Linked DNA regions of Homo sapiens. The protein of the gene in region 3 purifies or fractionates together with the protein of the main gene of each other region. This does not show direct contact. Each region holds a gene or a part of one and is shown on either strand. Other genes may lie near its edges. The genes, in order: SELENBP1, VSIG8, RAB9B, CDSN, SERPINB5, CHML and POF1B.

Region 1 (2,951 bases), on a different chromosome or scaffold from region 3:
CCCATGGTCTGAGAGCCAGCGCCCTACTACTGATTCCACAGCTGGGGGTGGAGGGACTTCAGACCTAGCCCCCACCCTCTGGCACACCCAGCACTTCCCCTACCTTTCCTTCCCACCCTGCCGTCCCTGCTGCCTGCTTTCTACCGTGCAGGACCCAGGGAAGAGATCGTCTACCTGCCCTGCATTTACCGAAACACAGGCACTGAGGCCCCAGATTATCTGGCCACTGTGGATGTTGACCCCAAGTCTCCCCAGTATTGCCAGGTTAGGCGGGGCTTGGGCGCCAGCTACTTTGAGACCATAGCTGCCCTCATCCCTGGCCCTGGGCCCCCCCTTCCCAGCTCCATCCTTCTTGGCCCTCCCTGGGGATGCTTGTGCACGCTCAACCTGGGACAAGGGGAGTGCTGAAATCCAGCCTGTGCCGTGCTTCCAAACCAAAATGAGTCCACAGGGCGCCTCTTCCAAAAGTGGACAGAGGCGTGGCCTGGGGGAGCACCACCTCTCCCCGCATCCTAGGTCATCCACCGGCTGCCCATGCCCAACCTGAAGGACGAGCTGCATCACTCAGGATGGAACACCTGCAGCAGCTGCTTCGGTGATAGCACCAAGTCGCGCACCAAGCTGGTGCTGCCCAGTCTCATCTCCTCTCGCATCTATGTGGTGGACGTGGGCTCTGAGCCCCGGGCCCCAAAGCTGCACAAGGCATGTCCTCTGCCCTTGCCAGCTCAGTAGACCATAAGACACCTGCCACCCCAGGTAGTCTACGGGCAGGAAGCCAGACCTAAACCAGCAGCCTCCAGCTCTTACGCGGCAACTGGCTCGGCAGCAGGGAGGGAGGTTGGACCTCAGAGCAGAGTCTACCCAGGCATTCTGGGTCATCACCCTCCAGCACGGTGACCAGGGCATGGGAGAAGAGGGACAAGGCTTCTTGTTTTACTCTGAGAGAGGGAGGGAGCCATTTATTCCCCCATGCAGTTAGGAGCTCAGGGTTCTCTTAAAAATTCCGGTCTCTCCCAACACTTTGTTTAGTGCACTTTTGGTGCCAGGCATTTACTGTGTTGTCTACTGGTAATACAGAGTTGACACTGGTGTAGGCCAGCCTGGGAGGAGCTTATGGTTTCACAGGGCTGCGTGTGCCTTCAGGACACATGGGGAAAGGTCAGCGCTTTCTGCCTGGGGAGTTATTAGCAATCTCTCTGACTTTCCCTTGCTGCTCTGTAGAAGTTACCAGACTGAATCTTTGTCATATTCCCACAGGGAGAGTTGTGTCCATGTTTTGAAGGAAAAGATGACAGAGTCAGCAGATAGAAGTAGGGGAAGTATGGAGGTTAAGAGCAGGGACTCCCAGTCCTGTATGATTCTGACACCATTCCCCACCCCTTCCAGGTCATTGAGCCCAAGGACATCCATGCCAAGTGCGAACTGGCCTTTCTCCACACCAGCCACTGCCTGGCCAGCGGGGAAGTGATGATCAGCTCCCTGGGAGACGTCAAGGGCAATGGCAAAGGTACCTGCCAGCACTGTGTGCTCATGAAAACTTCCACAGCTGTGAAATGTGGGAAGCATTTTTCTGTGGGAGGAGCAGAATGGAAGGGGAGGGTTGGAATGACTTCCCAAGGAGAACCAGTGAGCTGGATCCCAGCCAGTATTTTAAATGTTAGCAAGTAACTTCAGTTTTGAATATTTCTATTAAGATGAGTCTTCACTGATGAATTCAGTTCAAAGTTATAGTCAAAACAGGCCAGGTGTTGTGCCTCACTCCTCTAATCCCAGCACTTCAAGAGGCCGAGGCCAGCGGATCGCTTGAGCTCAGGAGTTCCAAACCAGCCTGGCCAACATGGTGAAACCCCATCTCTGTGTTGTCTGCTGATAATACAGAGTTGGCACTGGCAACTCTGCACTAAAAATACACAAATTAGCTGGGTGTGGTGGTACAGGCCTATAACCCCCACTTCTCAAGAGGCTGAGGTAGGAGGATCACCCGAGCCCAGGGAGGTCAAGGCTGCAATGAGCTGTGATTGAACCACAGCACTTCAGCTTGGGCGTCAGAGTGAGACCCTCTCTCAAAAAAATGTAGTGAGCAGAATGGAGCTTAGACTCTGGGAGGAATCCCACTCCAAAAGTGGGAGGCTGGACAAGAGAAATACCAGGTGCTGAGTCCCAGAAGATCTCGTGGGAGAAACGTTTCTGCTGTGGTCTGAGAGAGAGATGAAGTAGACAGGAGACAGGGGCACTGGCGTAAAGGCCCCCCTGCCACCTGGCCAAATTTGAATACCTGGATGAGACCCTTTGGATGCCTGAATTTTTTATTTACTTTTTCTTTTCTTTTTTCTTTTTCTTTTCTCTTTTTTTTTTTTTTTTGAGATGGGAGTCTCGTTCTGTTGCCCAGGCTAGAGTGCAGTGGCGCAATCTCAGCTCACTCCAACCTCCGCCTCACTGGTTCAAGAGATTATCCTGCCTCAGCCTCCCGAGTAGCTGGGATTACAGGCATGTGACGCCATGCCTGGGTAATTTTTTATATTTTTAATAGAGACAGAGTTTCACCATGTTGGCCAGGCTGATCCTGAACTCCTGACCTCAAGTGATCCGCCCGCCTCAGCCTCTCAAAGGGCTGGGATTACTGGCATGAGCCACTCTTCCCCCAGCCCTGGATGCCTGAATTTAAGGAACTGGCAAATCCAGCAGTGGAGGTAGAGGCAATGGGCTTACAGCCTCTTAGACATGCCTCGGGGAGAGGGCTGGAGGGTGGGGTTAGTGTCTCTACTGCTTCTACCTGCCACCCTGCTTCCTTCCCTGTTCAGGGGGTTTTGTGCTGCTGGATGGGGAGACGTTCGAGGTGAAGGGGACATGGGAGAGACCTGGGGGTGCTGCACCGTTGGGCTATGACTTCTGGTACCAGCCTCGACACAATGTCATGATCAGCACTGAGTGGGCAGCTCCCAATGTCTTAC
Region 2 (2,921 bases), on a different chromosome or scaffold from region 3:
CTTCTAGAGTGGGTGTCCCATCCCCCACCCCACAGGGACTGAGGTTGGGGTGGGAGCTCTCAGAGACCAGGCCTCTCTCCACTTCACTTTCAGGCCTGAACAATGGGGACCTGGTGTTGAAGGATATCTCCAGAGCAGATGATGGGCTGTATCAGTGCACAGTGGCCAACAACGTGGGCTACAGTGTTTGTGTGGTGGAGGTGAAGGTCTCAGGTAGGTGCAGCAGTCTTGAGGGCTGGGTGGTTGGGAGGGTTGAACTGGAGGAGGCTGGGCTCTGGTTTGGAGCCTCAGCTGCTTCTGCCTTTCCACTGCCATCCATTTGCCAGTGGGGGCTCCCAGCCCCTTTCCTACAAGTGGGCCAAGATCAGTGGGTACGATCTTGACCCTATTGAGCTGGGTCAAGCTCGCCCAGCACAGCTTCCACTCTGAGCTCTAGAGCCCAGAGCAGCTGGAAGCCCTGGGAGAAGCATGCTGACACGAGGGGTTAACTTGCATCTCCCCATATCTTCCCCACTGGGTGTTCCAGGGCTAAGAGACCCCCTGGGTCCCTCTCCCTCTTTCCCATTAACCCCTGACCTGGCACCTCCTGGTGCTGTTCCCTCAGGCACCTGCCAGGCTGTGAGAAAGCCTGACCTGCCTCCACTTCTCTCCACAGACTCCCGGCGTATAGGCGTGATCATCGGCATCGTCCTGGGCTCTCTGCTCGCGCTGGGCTGCCTGGCCGTAGGCATCTGGGGGCTCGTCTGCTGCTGCTGCGGGGGCTCCGGGGCTGGCGGCGCCCGCGGTGCCTTCGGCTACGGCAACGGCGGCGGGGTCGGCGGAGGGGCCTGCGGCGACTTGGCTAGTGAGATCAGGTAAAACCTGATGCATGCTGCATGCTGCTGTGCGGCAGGGAACCGGCGCCCTGCCCACCTCACTCCTGCCTGCCACCGGCCGGCTGGGCCCCCCACCCCAACCCTGCCCGCCATCGCCACGGAGTGCTGGGACTGCGGCATGTCGACCTGCCACCCAACTCATGGCTTTCCCCTCCCCCTGCCACCCCAGTCTTCACCTCTGCTCCCTGCCTTCCATTTCCCTCCTGCCTACGCACCTGTCTGTCTTGTCTAGACTGTAAGCTCCTGGAGGGCAGGGCCTATGTTTTTTCACGTTTCCCCTGTACTGCGCCGGTAAGAACTCTGACATTATTATTTAAGAAGAGCTAATAATAAGAATAGTGCTAATAACTTATATTAGAAGCAAACTAGAAATAAAAATAGAACAAGTCTAGTAGTGCTAATGATTGCAATGCCTCGGGGATGGAGGGAAAGATGGAGAAGACTGAGGGGCAGGAGGTGAGAAAGAGAGAGATTGCTCGAGCAAGGTCAGGATTAGCTAAGGAAAGAAGAAGAGGAAAAGCACCTTCTTCTGGGCCTGCGAAACATCAGAAAGGGATTGCAGGGGCCTGGAGGGGGCTGCCTGCAGGGCTCTCCAGATACGCGTGGACAAGCCCTGTCTGGAGGATGGGGATGCTGGCTCCGGGACCGCTGCAGGGTCGCCGACCCAGGAAGGGTCACAAAGGACAGTAGGTCGAGGCCGAGGGAGAGAGACGAGGGCAGGTGGAGGGAGGCGCGGGAGACAAGAGGTTGCCAAGAGCCCCCGGCTCTGCCCAGGCCGTGCCCACGCCCCGCTGCGGAGCAGCCCGCTCACCCGCCCGCCTGTTGTTTTCCACAGAGAGGACGCCGTGGCGCCCGGGTGCAAGGCCAGCGGGCGCGGCAGCCGCGTCACCCACCTCCTGGGGTACCCGACGCAGAACGTCAGCCGCTCCCTGCGCCGCAAGTACGCGCCTCCCCCCTGCGGCGGCCCCGAGGACGTGGCCCTGGCGCCCTGCACCGCCGCCGCCGCCTGCGAAGCGGGCCCCTCCCCGGTCTACGTCAAGGTCAAGAGCGCGGAGCCGGCTGACTGCGCCGAGGGGCCGGTGCAGTGCAAGAACGGCCTCTTGGTGTGAGCGCGCGCGCCGGGCCGGGCTGCGCCCCAGCCAGGAGGAGGGCGCGGGGCTCTCTGTCTGCAGCTGGGGACACGTCGGGGCTGGGGACGACCTCGCTCGCCCCAGGCTGCCAGGCGGCTGGGGGTGAAGGCATTTCCCTAAGGAAATGCGTAGGGAGGCAGAGCCTCCTCCCCAAAAGTGGGAAGGGGCGGGCGAGGGCGGAGGAAGGCGATCCTGAGCCTTCTCCGCACCCCCGGGACCGAAGGCTTGGGGGAGAGGGAGGGAGGAGGAGGCTGAGTGTCCTAGAGCGGCTGAGGCCGGAGGCCTGGTGTCCCCAGCCTAAGCAGAGGGCCCCGGGGGCCGGGTGGGTGGGGGTCTGTCTGGACGAATTGTTCTGTGTGTGAGGTCTGAGCTCTGAGGCAGCAGTGTTAGCACAATAAAGAAACATTGAGACGTGAGTCCGAAGTGGCTGTCCGCGTTCCACGGAGGTTGGGCACGGGGTGGCGAACCCTGCCCAGGGCCGGGGAGGGTTGCTTCTGTCGCTCGCCTCGACCACGCCCCCTCTCCTCCCTCCTGCTTAGATCCCTGGCAGTCAGAGCTGGAAGGGGCCATCCAGGGCAACTCCTCTGAACAACATACAAAGTGCAGATAAAAGGAAAACAAAGACAAAAAGAATTAGCTCAGAATATCTACGACCGTAAAATAAACTGAGGAACCGACAAAGTGCAATACACTTGCCATTTCTAAATATTCAAAGTTTTCACATGTCAAGATTTTCTATTGAGAATAATGTGCTCTGAAGGTCTAGGGAGTCTTTGTATGTTGCTGAAAGCTAAAAGGAAACCAGTCCTTGGAGCACAGAAGGCACAGGCATCCGGTGAGACAGAAACAAGGACATGTGAAAATAAGACTACAACCTCTTATATTAAAAAACTAAGTGCCACAGTTCTAGGGTGCT
Region 3 (3,500 bases):
CTTTAAGAGCAGGGATTTCCCACTCATTTTTGCAGCACCAGAAGGGAAGGAGTTTGTAACCAAGAGAACCTGAAAATAAAAGGAAAAGTAGGAGGGAAAACAGTTAAACCTGAAACTGAAATCAACTTCATAGCAAATTTCTCTGAATTATAAGGCCTTCTCATTCAACTTCTCTGATTTATGCTCATTAATTGATGTAGTACAGCAGAAGAAATAACACTAATTTTGCATAAGGGGAAAAATAGGTCTTGTTTTTCTGAGGTCTTTTGTTGTGCCAGGAAAATGGCTGAGTGCCATGGGTAAATGGACTAGCAGATGGTCCTGTAATTTGGTTCAGTTCTGACCCAATTCTAGGAGAGGAAGCCTAGAACAGGAATGCCACTCAAATGTGTGACAACTTTAGCTTCCGGTTTGGACAGTTCCAAACAATAGACAAATAGTATGAAATTGACTTGGGGTTTGAAGTCTGCTCCTGATGGATACAAAAATTACTGAGAAGAGAAAGCTACATAAACTGGATTCTTGATTCTGTCGGTAGAGGTCTGGGCCAGAATTAGACTGCACCCCAGAATTTGAAAGAGAGAACAAGGTTACGTTTCTTCAGGCATTTACCCCATTATACTTGCATTGATAGGAACACCCTCTCAAGTAAGGATCTTCTATATTTTTTTCTTCATGGAACAATGGCATTTAAGTTGATGACAATTGACTGATATCAATATAACAGCTGTCATGAAGGAAGGAAATCTTGAATAGCTTATTAGTTTTTGGATTCAGGTTTTAATTCCATAATAGCAACATTTGAAAACATACTGCAAAATTTAAAGTGCTAATATTTATACAGTACCCTACTTGTTACCTCCACAACATGTCTACACATGGAACACCTAGAATGTGTCTTAAAATAAAAAGATCAAATGCTTACTGAACAAATACTACCTTTTCCTATATTCTGTTAGGTACTTTCCCACTAGGTCTATTGTGGGAACTCAACGGTGATGAGGTTAATTGGATGATATTTATACAATAGACCCAAAGGGATGAAAACGAATCACTAATCGAAGGAGTGCATGCAAAACAGTTTCTGGAAGCACACACATTTGAATATAATTTTACAAAATTTAGTAGCCCTTAAAATGATTTTGGAATGCCTATGTACTAGCTATATATTTTTCTAAATATTCATTTTTAAGAGATCAAATATTAAAATATCCCAAATCCACAGTGTGCCCCCTTGAAATACCTACCCAGTGGGTTTTTGTCACAATTTAAATATTTTCCTTTTTTTCCTGTTGTTGTTTTATTCTTTCTTTTTAGGGTGCTATAAAACAGAATAGAAAACATTATTTTAAAAAAATCTATAATAAAATAACGTTAAGGCTCTATATAAAAATATATTCAAGTCAGAAAAAAAAAAAGAACCCACAGCAACCTCAAGTAACCTACAGAGGGTGCTTTTCAAAAATAAAAGTTCAAAATGCTACCTATGCTTAACATAAGCAAAATAATTTTATTCCAAGAACTTTAACTTATCCTAATTTGTAATTTATATAATTTTTTACATTTTATATTGTCTCTCAATTGAATTCTCCATTCAAAGTAAAAGCAAATTAAAGAAAGATGATATTCACAATAGATGACATTCAGGAAAAGGAAAGTACAGAGCAATCTAAGATATGCTGAAATCCTAAGTCGGAGATGAAACTTCTTCCTTTTATACCTACCAACGTTCCCATCTCCAAGAAAGTTGTTAGTGCACTCACCAGTCTGTCTCAAGGTTGTCTCTGCAATTGATTCCACATAATTAGAGAGCAGAAAAAAATTGTGTTTGTGGGCTTCCTGTTTACAATAAAGTATATTATCTTGGCTAATTATTTTATTAATTAGTTTAGGTCATTTTTCTTTTCTTTATTTATTTTTTAAATTTGAGACAAGGTCTCATTCTGTCACCCAGGCTGGAGTGCAGTGGTGCAGTCATGGCTCACTGCAGCCTCGACCTCCTGGGCTCAAGTAATCTTCCCACCTCAGCCTTCTGAGTAGCTGGGACTACGGGCATGCACCACCATGCCCGGCTAAGTTTTGTAGTTTTTGTAGAGATGGGGTTTCACCATGTTGCCCAGGTTGGTTTCAAACTCCTGGGTTCAAACGATCTGCCCACCTCATGTTCCCAAAGTGCTGGGTTCACAGGCGTGAGCCGCTGTACCTGGCAGTTCATCTGTCTTAAACACCAGTTTTAATATTTAGCTGGTGTTATTAAATTTAAATATACATTCATCTAATATTATAATTAATTATGGCAAGAATCTTATTTAAGCAGCATCAAGAGTACTGGTTTAAGAAGAAAAACAGTGCCTAGATCTGTGTAGTGTTATTTCTTACTGAGGAAGAACGAAGCTTTAAAAAAAAATCTGCTGCTTAATAATCACATGTTATTTTCTAAATATAGATAAAACTTATAATAAGGATTCATTAGATATCTAAATCAGTAATTATGAATTTAAATAATATCTCCTAAATGGATAGGCTTTATCCTCCTTCTTGGTTTATATACACTCTACAGAATTCTCAAGTTTCCTACAATTCCTAATTTTTGTCCTCTTTTTCCTGCTCCCAAATTGCTGTCTTTGGAATTAGCTCAAGTAACAAACATTTCTTTAAATGGAGATGAAACAAGTGTTAGCACACTTTTTTATTTTTTTATACTGGTCTGTAGGATAATTTTACAGAGCAAAACTCTTGAACTCTCATTTTGAAAAGCAACAGAAGTACAAACTTGGGCATGATTCTGATGGCTAGTATTAAGCGTCCAGGCCACACAAGCTTCCTTGAGTTCCTAGCAAACAGGCGTTCACATCATTAAAAGACTCACTGACCCTATTCTCCCAGTTGCAGATAAACTCAATAGACAGGTCAAGGACTGAGTGAATATGGAAACCAAATGCTCAGCTCCAGGAATAATGATGATGTATTAATAACTGTCTGAGATAATGCTGCAGTTGCTTGTGCATTCCCTATTTGGTTATGTGCACACATAACTTCTGGGCCTATAGGCTCTATGCCAAGGGAAAAAGAGGAAAAGCAATGTGGTTCAGTGTCAAGAGCACTGAGCTAGCTGGCAGTAATCAGGACACCAGGGTCTTCATCACTGTTACACCATTCATTTATTTTATGAACTTGGGCAGGTCATTTAATCTTTCTGTTTCAGTATCTTCTTACATAAAAATAGAGCAGATAATACCTGCCCTACTTAACAGGATTTTGGGGGAGAATGAAAAGCTTATGAAGTTTGCAAAGATTTGTAAGCATTTTTTGAAAAATTTGGTTTGAGATTTTTATTCCTCTGGCTCCTCCACCTCCTTTCATGCACTGGTGGGGGCCTTGTGGCTCAGTATTAACCCTTCTCAGAAAGGGCCTGCTAGTGAAAGTATAAGAATTCTTCCTTTTCTCTTTCTTCCATATTTGAGAATGCCTTGTTCCTCAACAAGCTTGAACATCTGCAT
Region 4 (2,860 bases), on a different chromosome or scaffold from region 3:
ACTGGGAAGGGTGACTCCAGCGGTTTCAGTAGCTACAGTGGCTCCAGCAGTTCTGGCAGCTCCATTTCCAGTGCCAGAAGCTCTGGTGGTGGCTCCAGTGGTAGCTCCAGCGGATCCAGCATTGCCCAGGGTGGTTCTGCAGGATCTTTTAAGCCAGGAACGGGGTATTCCCAGGTCAGCTACTCCTCCGGATCTGGCTCTAGTCTACAAGGTGCATCCGGTTCCTCCCAGCTGGGGAGCAGCAGCTCTCACTCGGGAAACAGCGGCTCTCACTCGGGAAGCAGCAGCTCTCATTCGAGCAGCAGCAGCAGCTTTCAGTTCAGCAGCAGCAGCTTCCAAGTAGGGAATGGCTCTGCTCTGCCAACCAATGACAACTCTTACCGCGGAATACTAAACCCTTCCCAGCCTGGACAAAGCTCTTCCTCTTCCCAGACCTTTGGGGTATCCAGCAGTGGCCAAAGCGTCAGCTCCAACCAGCGTCCCTGTAGTTCGGACATCCCCGACTCTCCCTGCAGTGGAGGGCCCATCGTCTCGCACTCCGGCCCCTACATCCCCAGCTCCCACTCTGTGTCAGGGGGTCAGAGGCCTGTGGTGGTGGTGGTGGACCAGCACGGTTCTGGTGCCCCTGGAGTGGTTCAAGGTCCCCCCTGTAGCAATGGTGGCCTTCCAGGCAAGCCCTGTCCCCCAATCACCTCTGTAGACAAATCCTATGGTGGCTACGAGGTGGTGGGTGGCTCCTCTGACAGTTATCTGGTTCCAGGCATGACCTACAGTAAGGGTAAAATCTACCCTGTGGGCTACTTCACCAAAGAGAACCCTGTGAAAGGCTCTCCAGGGGTCCCTTCCTTTGCAGCTGGGCCCCCCATCTCTGAGGGCAAATACTTCTCCAGCAACCCCATCATCCCCAGCCAGTCGGCAGCTTCCTCGGCCATTGCATTCCAGCCAGTGGGGACTGGTGGGGTCCAGCTCTGTGGAGGCGGCTCCACGGGCTCCAAGGGACCCTGCTCTCCCTCCAGTTCTCGAGTCCCCAGCAGTTCTAGCATTTCCAGCAGCTCCGGTTTACCCTACCATCCCTGCGGCAGTGCTTCCCAGAGCCCCTGCTCCCCACCAGGCACCGGCTCCTTCAGCAGCAGCTCCAGTTCCCAATCCAGTGGCAAAATCATCCTTCAGCCTTGTGGCAGCAAGTCCAGCTCTTCTGGTCACCCTTGCATGTCTGTCTCCTCCTTGACACTGACTGGGGGCCCCGATGGCTCTCCCCATCCTGATCCCTCCGCTGGTGCCAAGCCCTGTGGCTCCAGCAGTGCTGGAAAGATCCCCTGCCGCTCCATCCGGGATATCCTAGCCCAAGTGAAGCCTCTGGGGCCCCAGCTAGCTGACCCTGAAGTTTTCCTACCCCAAGGAGAGTTACTCAACAGTCCATAAGAAGTCAACTGTTGTGTGTGTGCATGCCTTGGGCACAAACAAGCACATACACTATATCCCATATGGGAGAAGTCCAGTGCCCAGGCATAGGGTTAGCTCAGTTTCCCTCCTTCCCAAAAGAGTGGTTCTGCTTTCTCCACTACCCCAAGGTTGCAGACTCTCTCTTATCACCCCTTCCTCCTTCCTCTTCTCAAAATGGTAGATTCAAAGCTCCTCTCTTGATTCTCTCCTACTGTTTAAATTCCCATTCCACCACAGTGCCCCTCAGCCAGATCACCACCCCTTACAATTCCCTCTACTGTGTGGAAATGGTCCATTGAGTAACACCCCCATCAGCTTCTCAACTGGGAAACCCCTGAAATGCTCTCAGAGCACCTCTGACGCCTGAAGAAGTTATACCTTCCTCTTCCCCTTTACCAAATAAAGCAAAGTCAAACCATCATCTGGAAACAGTGGCCACTTTTCACTGACCTTTCTTCGACATCTAGTCAACCCACCCAATATGCCACTGGGCTCTCGCTCCCAATTCCACCCCACCCTCCATTACAGAGCTCACCACGCCCTCCTAGATCACCGTCCCCAACACACCCATTGCCTCTCAAGGCCCTTATCTCAGCCCCTTCCTGTGGCCACTTCCCTCAGTGCTCAGATGATTCCCTGGGTGAGGGAGACACTGGGGCACCCTCAGAGGTTGAAGCAGGCTCCCTGCTGTCCCTGGATCCTGGACAGATGGCTCAGTAAACTGTGGGGACTAGGTGCAGACTTTTTGCCTTCTTGGAGTCCTGGGTCTCCTCTGAGAGTCTGGGTGGTGCTCTTCCTACGCCTCTAGAGGTCTCTGTGTTCCTCATTTTCCTTCAAAAGCGGGCTGTGTTTCTCTTCTACCTTCCAGCTGCTCCCACAGAGGAGGAAGACAATAAATATTTGTTGAACTGAAAGCAGAGATTGCCTGGCCTCCCAGATCCTTCCGCCATTTCCCTCCTCTCTCATTGCTCCAGGAAATCCATTCTCTTCCCATTCCTCATTCACCGTGGGGTCCCCCTTCCCCTTATTTAGGGCCCTCAGTGTTTCCTCTCCCTCCCCTCCCCTCCCCTCCCCACCCAAACTCCTTTTCTTCCACCATTAGCATTCCTCACCTTCTAGATGCCATCCTCTCTGGGAGTCATGAGTCTCGATTTCCTGGGTTTCTGGGACACCTGGAAGCTTGGGAAGGCTGGGACACAACAACTCCAACCAGATTCCTGTCAGCTGAGTAGGAGGCCAGTTGGGCGTTGTTCCTGGAGCTGGGGGTGGAGAGAGTAAAGGACTGAGAGGATGGGAGCAGGGCAGGGAGTGCAGCCAAGCAGGGTGACTCACTGGCCTAGATCAAGAGGCCCAGCCTGTGGCAGAACAGAGCTGCCGGTGGTCTCTCCATCTTCACACTCCCTGCTCTGCTGGGGTC
Region 5 (3,500 bases), on a different chromosome or scaffold from region 3:
GAAAATGTCAAAGATGTACCCTTTGGATTTCAAACAGTAACATCGGATGTAAACAAACTTAGTTCCTTTTACTCACTGAAACTAATCAAGCGGCTCTACGTAGACAAATCTCTGAATCTTTCTACAGTAAGTTGTTTAAAGCAAGTAGCAAGACTTAACTTTTTACAAGGAGTGGCATTTTCATGCTGTTAGACCTACAACTTTTTTTCAGTGAAATTCCTTTCTAGGATGTTCACTTGTGATTTGAGGCTTTAAATAAATAAATCCTAGTGGAGAGGTTGAGTATAGTGGGAATCAATTGCAGTCACATCTTCTAACTCAAAATACAGAGAAGCTTATGGGCTTTCCTTTTCTCTCTCAAATAAATCTTACCCTTTCTTTTACCTTCCTCTGAGAGAATGGAGAACAGAGTAATTAACTCTCTAATAAATGTAGCTCCATAGACAATGAGCTGTCTTACAGAGTGTAAGACAGCTAATGATTTAAACTTCTTTCTCCTTAAAGAGCAGGGCATATGGCCTGGGACAATGTTTTAAGCTCTCCACCTCATTTTTTATGCACACATTCTTCTGATGTTTCTCAAAATCAGTAAGAAAAATAATAACTATGAATTCACAATTTTCATCAGTCACAAATTAGTTTTGTTGGCTGGGCTGGTCAGATGGGGATCTCCACAGGCAGCTCTGGTTATATAAGTTTAGCCATTGCTCTAAGGAATCATACAAACACCACTACGGTACCCATTGTTGTAATATTTAAAAATCTGTATTTGAAACACACAGACAATATTCTAGACTACATGAAGTTTCCCTCTGTACTTCAGTAACACAGAGTTGATTTAGTTCCTGTTTGGATGGTCAGAATTTCAAGGTTTCCAAATCGAAAAGCTAGACTACCAGCTTTTAAATATTTTACCATGATTTTGCAACTTTCTGCAGTAGGTATTTTTGTGGTTAAGATCTTTTGAGGACATGGGTTACTAGATATTGTGAGTATATTTTTTGTTGCTTAAAGATACATACACACAACCATTTTTCTTCCAACAATCATCTGAAGAATTTAAAAAAAAAAACTGAGATGTGAGTTGAAGCCTGAGCATACAACATTTCTAGAAGCTCCCTAAATGATCATTAAAGAGACAATTAACACATTTTTATTGCTGGCAGTGAGGACAATGGAGGCCCTCCTTCATCTGGCTGAGGCTTTCTAATGTTTTCAGGTGAGATTGGTTCTGTCAGTCAATGGTGACAGTGAGTCCCAAGGTTGATTTGCAATTAACTGAAGCTAAGTTAATTGGCTAAGGCTGAAGCTGCTCTGAAGAAATTCAAGAAGCCCTGTGCTTGGAAGTGAACTGACATGACACTGAATCAAGTTATATTTAGTTTCACTGAACTTCCATGCAACATCTGGAATGATCTTAACCAGACTAGGAGTTGTAAAGTTTTGTTTTGTTTTTTTCCTTGGAGATGGAGTCTTTCTCTGTTGCCCAGGCTGGGGTGCAGCGGCATGATCTCGGCTCATTACAAAAGATTTTTTAAAAGACTGCTTTCCATTGCTCCTGCTAGGTGCACAGCATCTGCAAATTTACTAGTTAAAGGTCCAAACAAGTGTGCTCTGTGGAGGATCTCTTGCATAAGAACTATCTGGGTGTTAAAAGGGCAAGTTCTTCAGGCCCTTTTAACACCCAGGTAGTTCTGATTGAACCCAGGTAGTTCTGATTAAACCCAGGTAGTTCTGATTGTCAAGGTGGGAATGGGGTTTAGGGTTGCACATTTTAAATAAGCATTAGAATAAGAACTCCTGTTATGTTCTCTCCTGCATTGTGTTTCCAACCTTAATTTGCAGATGGCACACCTGGAAATTTTGTTAAAATGCATTCTGATTCAGTATGTCTGGGGTGGGGTCTGAGATTCTTTATTTCTAACAAGGTCTCAGGTGATGCTGTACACCACCTTGGACCACAGTTTGAGTAGCAAGGGTCTACAGGATATTTAGTTCAGCAAAGACAAGAGTTTTCTGCTCATAATTCTGTTTTCTATACATTTCCTATATTCTAATATATATGTATCTGTAGACATACAAAATTTTCATGTTTCTGAAATTACAACCCATAAGAGAATTGGGCATATTTAACATAGTGTTTTCCCCAAAGCTGATATTAAATTGATAGATGCATTTAATAATTGAAATTGTCTTATAATTGAAAAAAATGAAACATTCAATACAAAGAAATTCACTGACTTCTACATGAGGTTTCAATTCATATAGTGTTACCAATTTTGAAAGTGTACATATAGCAGTTGATATTTAATAATCCTTTTGTTAGAAGAGAATAACAATGCAATAGCTTGACTACAGACTCTGATTTTATGAACTGCATGTTTTTCAGGAGTTCATCAGCTCTACGAAGAGACCGTATGCAAAGGAATTGGAAACTGTTGACTTCAAAGATAAATTGGAAGAAACGAAAGGTCAGATCAACAACTCAATTAAGGATCTCACAGATGGCAAGTACCCTTTAATTGTTCTGCTATCAATCACCAAGTAAACAGGGCCTTCCATCTCATAAATGTTTGCTCCAAGGATAAAAAAAACATCTGGAGGATTCTCTGGATATTTTTACTACACAAGCTAAATTCTTTCCCTTCAAGCCTGTAAACAACTTGGATTTCTGGGCAATTCTTGTATCATCTCATCACTTGGTAGAAACTGTTGATGCTTCAGTGTTAGTTTACTTTGTCTTGCTCTCTGACGAGCTGTCACAGGCCCTAGTGGAATCCTAGCTGCGCCTCTAACAAAGTATGACTTTGGGCCAATCATGAGGCCATTTTTCAGTCTGGAAATAGAGGGACTGGATTATAACTTCATGATCCCCGAGGCCCCTTTCAGCTGACAAATTTTACAAATTTGTTAAGGAAAAAGGGACATAGGCAACATATGTAAAAGAAAAACCGGCTGGACGCGGTGGCTCACGCCTGTAATCCCAGCACTTTGGGAGGCCAAGGCGGGCGGATCACGAGGTCAGGAGATCGAGACCATCCTGGCTAACACGGTGAAACCCTGTCTCTACTAAAAATACAAAAAATTAGCCGGGCGTGGTGGCGGGCGCCTGTAGTCCCAGCTACTCGGGAGGCTGAGACAGGAGAATGGCGTGAACCCGGGAGGCGGAGCTTGCAGTGAGCAGAGATCGCGCCACTGCACTCCAGCCTGGGCGACAGAGTGAGACTCTGTCTTAAAAAAAGAAAACCAAACCAAACAAAACCGTAGTGTCAGCTTGTCCTCGGTGCCGCAGCTCCCCATGCTGGTCGTTCCTCTGATAGCCCCGGGGTCCAAGAAGCTCCTAGGTTCTTTCTCCGGCTCAGTGCTTCCCCCAGGCGTCTCCCTCGTCGGACTCCTCGTCCCTCCCTTAAAATTGCCGGTGAGTCGTCTTCCTTGCTGGAAAAGAATTAGGGTTATGATGATTTTGAGGGCAAATCAGTGACTTTGTCCCCCTCCCCAGT
Region 6 (3,500 bases), on a different chromosome or scaffold from region 3:
ATATTTTTGAGACAGAGGCTTTGACTAGACAGGACTGTTAGGATTGCCATTTTAGTTAAACTAAAGGTGTGTGCCCTATGCAATTTAATCTAAGTTCCAATTGAATGGCTTGTTTTTCCAGTATCCAGGATTATTAGTCATCTTGGGCTAGACAGGTACAGCTTGTACTGATTTATATTTCAGTAGGTTTAACAGTAGTGAAAACCAGAGCTCAAAACTGTGCAATGATGAATATTAGAAAGTTTAGCAGTATTGTTGCTTTAGCCTAAAGACTTTCAGGTGAGTATGCTCTTCAGCACCTTGGCCTTTCTACCTCTGGCCACACAGGGCATCACACAGATGTCTTCCGCACATGGAATGTAACCAGCATTATGCTCAAAGTTAACAGGAGAACCTTATTATTTTTTTTTTTTTAAACTTCCCCTTCAAAAATAAGAACAAACAGTGTTAGTCTTGGCAGAGGATGTTTAGATAGACCTTTTGCTTGGGATGCAGAGATTCAGGGTTGCAGAGACAGTGGCGAAATGCAAACATCACTGTATTCAAATGTTAGAAGTAGGTATTATTTATGTTAAGATATTTTAATATGAAATCAGAAGTTTTCCTTTTTTACTTACACTTACACACTTTTTTCCTTTATTACTTATATGCATGTGTACATTCATATAATATTTTTAATACATTTTCCTCCTCAGGGCTATTATGAGCCTAAATATTTTTAAATGGCCAGTTGTTTTACTGAATTAATCCTTTTGTAATAATCTGACTAGTAATTGAGTAGAAATAGTCTCATGTTGCTACCATGAGATCCTAAGGGTGGTTGTGGCATGGAAAGGTCTTATATTCAGCTGTTCTGGAATCACACATAGACTGTAATGGCCACAGAAATATTTTGAATCATGGCAGTATGCACATAGTTTATAATCTGTTTCTATAAACAGTGGAGCCATGCGTTCCTTTTAGTCTAAGCTCACAGCTGTGTATAGATTTATTCACATGATAGTTTTCTTAAAAGCTAAAGTTAGAGAATTGTATTATGTTATTTCTTCTTTATTTTTGTGGAACATTATGTTCATTCTCTATTACTATGTTGCCTGATTCTTGGGAGGGCTGTTATATCTCTATTGTCCATTCTCAAGAAATTAGAAAATATGTGAGAAAGCATTTAAGACATGCTTTAGTAGAGGTTTATGTCCAAATAAGATGTCACACTCCAATGGATTGTCATTGTTGCATGAAATTATTTTTCTCTTATATTGTTTACAATGTATTCTTTCTTGAATTTTCTTCTTTCAGAGAAGAGTTCCAGTCACAAATGCATATATGATGCATTTTGACATTTACTGCTAAGATGAAATGCAGAAATGAAACCACACATCCATTTTAGTATTCTCAGATGTGATTAGATGTACTTGCTCATGTTTTTATGCTACTGACTTATAAGAAAAAAAATATTTTAAAAGGGTAACCGTTAAACAGCTAGGACCTGCAACTTCAGTGCTTCTGGGATAACTGGAACATCAGAAGGACAGATTTTATTACAGCATAATCACACCTCATTTCTTTCATCAGCAGTTGTCACCAGACGCTGTTACTTCCTAAAATGGCGGACAATCTTCCCACAGAGTTTGATGTGGTTATAATAGGGACAGGTTTGCCCGAATCCATCCTTGCAGCTGCATGTTCAAGAAGTGGTCAGAGGGTTCTGCATATTGATTCAAGAAGCTACTATGGAGGAAACTGGGCTAGTTTCAGCTTTTCAGGATTGCTATCCTGGTTGAAGGAGTATCAGCAAAACAATGACATTGGGGAAGAAAGTACTGTTGTATGGCAGGACCTGATCCATGAAACAGAAGAAGCCATCACTCTTCGCAAGAAGGATGAAACTATTCAACACACAGAAGCTTTTTGCTACGCCAGTCAGGATATGGAGGACAACGTTGAAGAGATTGGTGCTCTGCAGAAAAATCCTTCTTTGGGGGTGTCTAATACCTTCACTGAAGTTCTGGATTCTGCATTACCTGAAGAAAGCCAGTTATCGTATTTTAATAGCGACGAAATGCCTGCAAAACACACTCAGAAAAGTGATACAGAGATTTCACTAGAAGTAACTGATGTAGAGGAATCAGTGGAGAAGGAAAAGTATTGTGGAGATAAAACTTGTATGCACACAGTTTCAGATAAAGATGGAGATAAAGATGAAAGCAAATCTACAGTAGAAGATAAGGCCGATGAACCAATTAGAAATAGGATTACTTACTCTCAAATAGTTAAAGAAGGCAGGAGGTTTAATATTGATTTGGTGTCAAAACTGCTGTATTCTCAAGGATTGCTAATTGATCTTTTAATCAAATCAGATGTTAGTCGTTATGTAGAATTTAAAAATGTCACTAGGATTCTTGCATTTCGGGAAGGAAAGGTAGAACAAGTTCCTTGTTCCAGAGCAGATGTCTTTAATAGCAAGGAACTCACCATGGTTGAAAAGAGGATGCTAATGAAATTTCTCACATTTTGTTTAGAGTATGAACAACATCCTGATGAATACCAAGCTTTCAGGCAGTGTTCATTTTCAGAATACTTAAAAACTAAAAAACTAACTCCCAACCTTCAACATTTTGTACTGCACTCAATTGCAATGACATCAGAATCATCTTGCACTACAATAGATGGTCTTAACGCAACTAAAAACTTCCTTCAGTGTCTCGGACGGTTTGGCAACACCCCCTTTTTATTTCCCTTGTATGGCCAAGGAGAAATTCCCCAGGGTTTCTGTAGGATGTGTGCAGTTTTTGGTGGAATCTATTGTCTTCGTCATAAAGTACAATGCTTTGTAGTCGACAAAGAATCTGGACGATGTAAAGCAATTATAGATCACTTTGGTCAAAGAATAAATGCTAAATATTTTATTGTGGAAGACAGTTACCTTTCTGAGGAAACATGCTCAAATGTGCAGTATAAGCAGATCTCTAGGGCAGTACTCATTACAGATCAGTCTATACTAAAGACAGATTTAGATCAGCAGACTTCCATTCTGATAGTTCCTCCAGCAGAGCCAGGAGCTTGTGCTGTACGGGTCACAGAATTATGTTCTTCAACCATGACATGCATGAAGGACACCTATCTGGTACATTTGACATGTTCATCTTCTAAAACAGCAAGAGAAGACTTAGAATCAGTGGTGAAGAAATTATTCACTCCGTATACTGAAACAGAAATAAACGAGGAAGAACTTACAAAGCCAAGACTCTTGTGGGCTCTTTATTTTAATATGAGAGATTCCTCGGGAATCAGCAGAAGCTCGTATAATGGCTTGCCTTCCAATGTTTATGTCTGCTCTGGGCCTGACTGTGGCCTGGGAAATGAGCATGCTGTCAAGCAAGCTGAAACACTTTTCCAGGAGATCTTTCCAACTGAAGAATTCTGCCCTCCACCTCCAAATCCAGAAGACATTATCTTTGATGGTGATGATAAGCAGCCAGAGGCTCCTGGAACCAATAATG
Region 7 (3,500 bases), about 19 Mb from region 3:
AGTGATTTTCAATTGACCCTGAACATGTCTGATCTTGTTTGATCTCAGAAGCTAAGCAGGATTGAGCCTGGCTAGTACTTGGATGGGAGACCTGGCCATTTTTATGTTGTGACTCTCTGGGTCTCATTCAAATATTCAAATATCAGAGAAAGTGTGTGCACTACCTATTACTGCCAGCTGGTGGTGGAAGTTGAGGTTCCCCCACTCAGCTTCTCTTGATGCGATAGGGTGAAAGCCCAAGCTCCCTTCACAGTCTCAACTGACATCACAGTGCATGGAATTTCATTTTTGGCCAGTAGGAATGAAAGCACCATTCTTCACTCTGTCTTTTCTGACACCATCCCAGTGAATGGTGTTGTGTACCTCCCTAGAGCCTGACAAGGGGGCAGTCTAAGCTCTCTTCTTGGCCTTTGGTGGTCCGTGTGGAAGTAGAGTTGCAATTTCTTCTGTGGTGTTTGGCTAAGATAGAGTGGTTACTATCTAAAAGTTTTCTGTCCTGCTAGGCTGACCCTTTCATGGTCCTTTGGTTAGAGAGAGAAGGCTTTTCTCAGGACTTTTGTTGTCCATTGATGTAACTAGATCACCAGCTTGCCCAACACTGATCTAATATATGAAGCAAAAAGAAAATCCAGGAACTCACTGCTGTGTCATTTCTCAGGTCCCAAGATTCCTAACCAATCATTTCTCTTTTCACCAATTTGGGTCTTTTTATATTTGTTTTATATATAATGTCCAGGGTTTTTAGCTGCAATTAACAGGAAGGCTAGGGAAAAGTATTTTTTTTCTTTTTTCTTTCTTTTTTTTTTTTGTGAAGCAACAAAAGTAGAGATTTATTGAAAATGAAAGCACACTCCACAGGGTGGGAGTGGGCTGAGCAATTGGCTCAAGTGCACAGTTATATAATTTTATGTGGTTTAAATGTCCTCTAGAGGTTTCCCATTGGTAACTTGGTGTACACTCTATGTAAATGAAGTAGTGGCCCGTTATCAGTCGGATTGGTTGCAGAAAGTGACCAATCAGAGGCTGAAGTTACAAAGTTAAACCTTAAACAACGTCTGATTGGTTGTGGAAAGTATTTTTACTCCATCTTCCCAGAAGCTGAAGTTGTCTGTTTTTTAAACCATTTTTCTTTAAAGAAATAAGAATAATCTAGTAAAAGAGTTTCCCCTCTCTTTAAAATTTGAGATAAGCCAGGTGCAGTGGCTCACACCTGTAATCCCAGCACTTTAGGAGGCCAAGGCTGGTGGATCACTTGAGGTCAGGAGTTCGAGACCAGCCTGGCCAACACAGTGAAATCCGTTCTCTACTCAAAATACAAAAATTCACCAGGTGTGTTGGTGCATACCTGTAGTCCCAGCTACTTGGGAGGCTGAGGTGGAAGAATTGCTTGAACCCAGGGGGCAGAGATTGCAGTGAACTGAGATCATGCCACTACACTCCAGCCTAGGCGACAGAGTGAGACTCTGGTAAAAAAACAAAAACAAAACAAAAAAAACCAAAAATATTTAGATAGCTCTATACTTTAAAGTTAAACTTAATTATAATTATATTCTTCTCACCTCAGGCAAAATTCAGGCAGTTGGCAATACACTTAGGGAGATTCATTTTATTATTTGATTATTGACTGTCTCATCTCTTCTAATCTTTTAAATAAAGAATAATGTAAAAATTAAATTTTGCTGATAGAATTCTACTTTGTGACAAAGATGATACTTTATCATGGAAAAAATAATAAATATTTGTTATAAATACTAGCTATGCTATCTTCAGGAATATTATTTGGATTACTTAAACACACTATTGACAAAATGCCTTATATCACCTTTCTAATTTGCCATATCAAAGTAAAATTATTAATAAGTTTGCTAGTAGGAAAAAAAAAACTTTCACTTATATTGCCTATTTTCAAATGTTAATAAAACTAAACCATTAATCCTTTCTTCCTGCAGATGAGGGGTATGTCTGATAAGTCACTCCGACTAGTGCTGTCCACATTTAGCAACATACGGGAGGAGCTTGGACATCTTCAAAATGATATGACAGTAAGATTTATTTTGATTTTTTCCAAAGCCTTTCTAGTTACTAGCTTCCTAATACAGAAATAAAGATGTCCAGTATATGTTTTTAAAATTTAATATAGCACAATATTATGCTTATTCAGACAAAGCTAAATTATTTTCTTCAAACAGTTAATTGGCATTGAGAGAGGAGAAAAGAGGTATCCAAAGTATAAATGAAAGAATGTTGGATGTGCACTTATCATTTAGTTTACCACTAAGGCAATTTAATGCTTAAAGCCAGAGAGTCATCTGCAAAGTTAAAATAATCTGACTCATTGGAGGTAAATTCCCCCTTTTTCATAATTATAAAGCATACTCTGAATTTCCATTCAAATATAATAACTTGAAAACATTTTTCTCCAAAAAATTAATTTTTTTCCATTTTCTATTTTAATTGGTGTTCTTGGTGCCATCAGCTAGATACATTCAGAATGCTTTCCACACATTGAATAATGCCTTGAGGACTTTGGAGTAGTTTTGTTGTTTCTGGGTTATGATGAACATATTTAGACTCTAATTTAAAAATTTACCACTCGCTGGGATTAACGAGGACTCTTTGTAGATTGGAGGAAAACATTAAAACATTTCAGAGGGTTGTGCTTCATTTCATGTATAGTTAGTCCATCAAAATGTCTCTTTCAATGAAGGTTTTAGAAGTTTCAATCATTTCCTATCCCGTATTTTCTTAACTTTTAAGAATTCTGCTTTATTAAGCAAGTACAAATGAAACAAGTGCTTATTTAAATCTTCCAAGGTAAGCAAGTCTTTGTATTATGTGACTGTTAAGTTTTTGCAATTCTGAATCATAATAAATAATTTATGCTTCTAGTCACTGGAAAATGACAAGATGAGACTTGAGAAAGATTTATCATTCAAAGACACTCAATTAAAAGAGTACGAAGAACTCTTGGCATCAGTGAGAGCAAATAATCACCAGCAGCAGGTAAACTGATGCTTTTATTGGTGTTAATCTACATTGATAGCTTTTCATATGCACAATTACTGGCACATTGGAGTTATGAGATATAATCAAGACAGAATTAAATATGATGGAAAAATTTGTTCATATGAGAATTGAGTGGCTTTGGGTATTTCTAATGGCTGAAAGCCCTCTCAGAAAAACAGATAATCTTATCTATTTTAGATATAAAGTACATATGGGACACAATTATTTGTCTTGTTGGGTGACCAGAATTGTAGAAATACTAAAAATCTAGGTTCATGCATTTATTTAATGTACTAACATGTCAATGAGAAAAGCTGTTGTAGACCTTAATACATGTTTGTGCAATAAATAAATGACTGAAAAAACTCTAGATGAATTCTCTGGATGTCTGAGCAGAGAGAATTCCTAGGAAATTGTAAGTAGTCTCTAAGGATTACCCTCTTCCTGATCTTTACTCCTATGGCTGTCCCAAATTCTTGCTCAGTTACTAGTTG

Evidence for each region.
Region 1: the proteins of RAB9B (region 3) and SELENBP1 purify together in Homo sapiens (affinity purification with mass spectrometry; one large-scale study listed by BioGRID and IntAct). This does not show direct contact.
Region 2: the proteins of RAB9B (region 3) and VSIG8 purify together in Homo sapiens (affinity purification with mass spectrometry; one large-scale study listed by BioGRID and IntAct). This does not show direct contact.
Region 4: the proteins of RAB9B (region 3) and CDSN purify together in Homo sapiens (affinity purification with mass spectrometry; one large-scale study listed by BioGRID and IntAct). This does not show direct contact.
Region 5: the proteins of RAB9B (region 3) and SERPINB5 purify together in Homo sapiens (affinity purification with mass spectrometry, with the first as the bait; one large-scale study listed by BioGRID). This does not show direct contact.
Region 6: the proteins of RAB9B (region 3) and CHML purify together in Homo sapiens (affinity purification with mass spectrometry; 3 studies listed by BioGRID and IntAct, with this or other methods). This does not show direct contact.
Region 7: the proteins of RAB9B (region 3) and POF1B purify together in Homo sapiens (affinity purification with mass spectrometry; one large-scale study listed by BioGRID and IntAct). This does not show direct contact.

What each region holds. Positions count from the first base shown.
Region 1 is NC_000001.11:151,366,755-151,369,705, reverse strand, and holds part of SELENBP1 (methanethiol oxidase), read left to right. Parts: intron 1-151; coding exon 152-264; intron 265-516; coding exon 517-702; intron 703-1,386; coding exon 1,387-1,507; intron 1,508-2,530; exon of another isoform or gene 2,531-2,690; intron 2,691-2,801; coding exon 2,802-2,951. UniProt on the Homo sapiens protein: Catalyzes the oxidation of methanethiol, an organosulfur compound known to be produced in substantial amounts by gut bacteria. Selenium-binding protein which may be involved in the sensing of reactive xenobiotics in the cytoplasm.
Region 2 is NC_000001.11:159,853,816-159,856,736, reverse strand, and holds the end of VSIG8 (V-set and immunoglobulin domain-containing protein 8 precursor), read left to right. Parts: intron 1-93; coding exon 94-213; intron 214-576; exon of another isoform or gene 577-655; coding exon 656-854; exon of another isoform or gene 855-1,710; coding exon 1,711-1,984; 3' UTR 1,985-2,421; downstream 2,422-2,921.
Region 3 is NC_000023.11:103,825,758-103,829,257, forward strand, and holds part of RAB9B (ras-related protein Rab-9B), read right to left. Parts: intron 1,322-3,500; 5' UTR 1,248-1,321; intron 70-1,247; 5' UTR 28-69; coding exon 1-27. UniProt on the Homo sapiens protein: The small GTPases Rab are key regulators of intracellular membrane trafficking, from the formation of transport vesicles to their fusion with membranes.
Region 4 is NC_000006.12:31,114,587-31,117,446, reverse strand, and holds the end of CDSN (corneodesmosin precursor), read left to right. Parts: coding exon 1-1,422; 3' UTR 1,423-2,360; downstream 2,361-2,860. UniProt on the Homo sapiens protein: Important for the epidermal barrier integrity.
Region 5 is NC_000018.10:63,486,958-63,490,457, forward strand, and holds part of SERPINB5 (serpin B5), read left to right. Parts: coding exon 1-126; intron 127-2,389; coding exon 2,390-2,507; intron 2,508-3,500. UniProt on the Homo sapiens protein: Tumor suppressor. It blocks the growth, invasion, and metastatic properties of mammary tumors.
Region 6 is NC_000001.11:241,633,870-241,637,369, reverse strand, and holds part of CHML (rab proteins geranylgeranyltransferase component A 2), read left to right. Parts: intron 1-1,175; exon of another isoform or gene 1,176-1,296; coding exon of another isoform or gene 1,297-1,337; 5' UTR 1,338-1,572; coding exon of another isoform or gene 1,573-1,603; coding exon 1,604-3,500. UniProt on the Homo sapiens protein: Substrate-binding subunit (component A) of the Rab geranylgeranyltransferase (GGTase) complex. Binds unprenylated Rab proteins and presents the substrate peptide to the catalytic component B.
Region 7 is NC_000023.11:85,306,666-85,310,165, reverse strand, and holds part of POF1B (protein POF1B), read left to right. Parts: intron 1-1,949; coding exon 1,950-2,042; intron 2,043-2,889; coding exon 2,890-3,003; intron 3,004-3,500. UniProt on the Homo sapiens protein: Plays a key role in the organization of epithelial monolayers by regulating the actin cytoskeleton. May be involved in ovary development.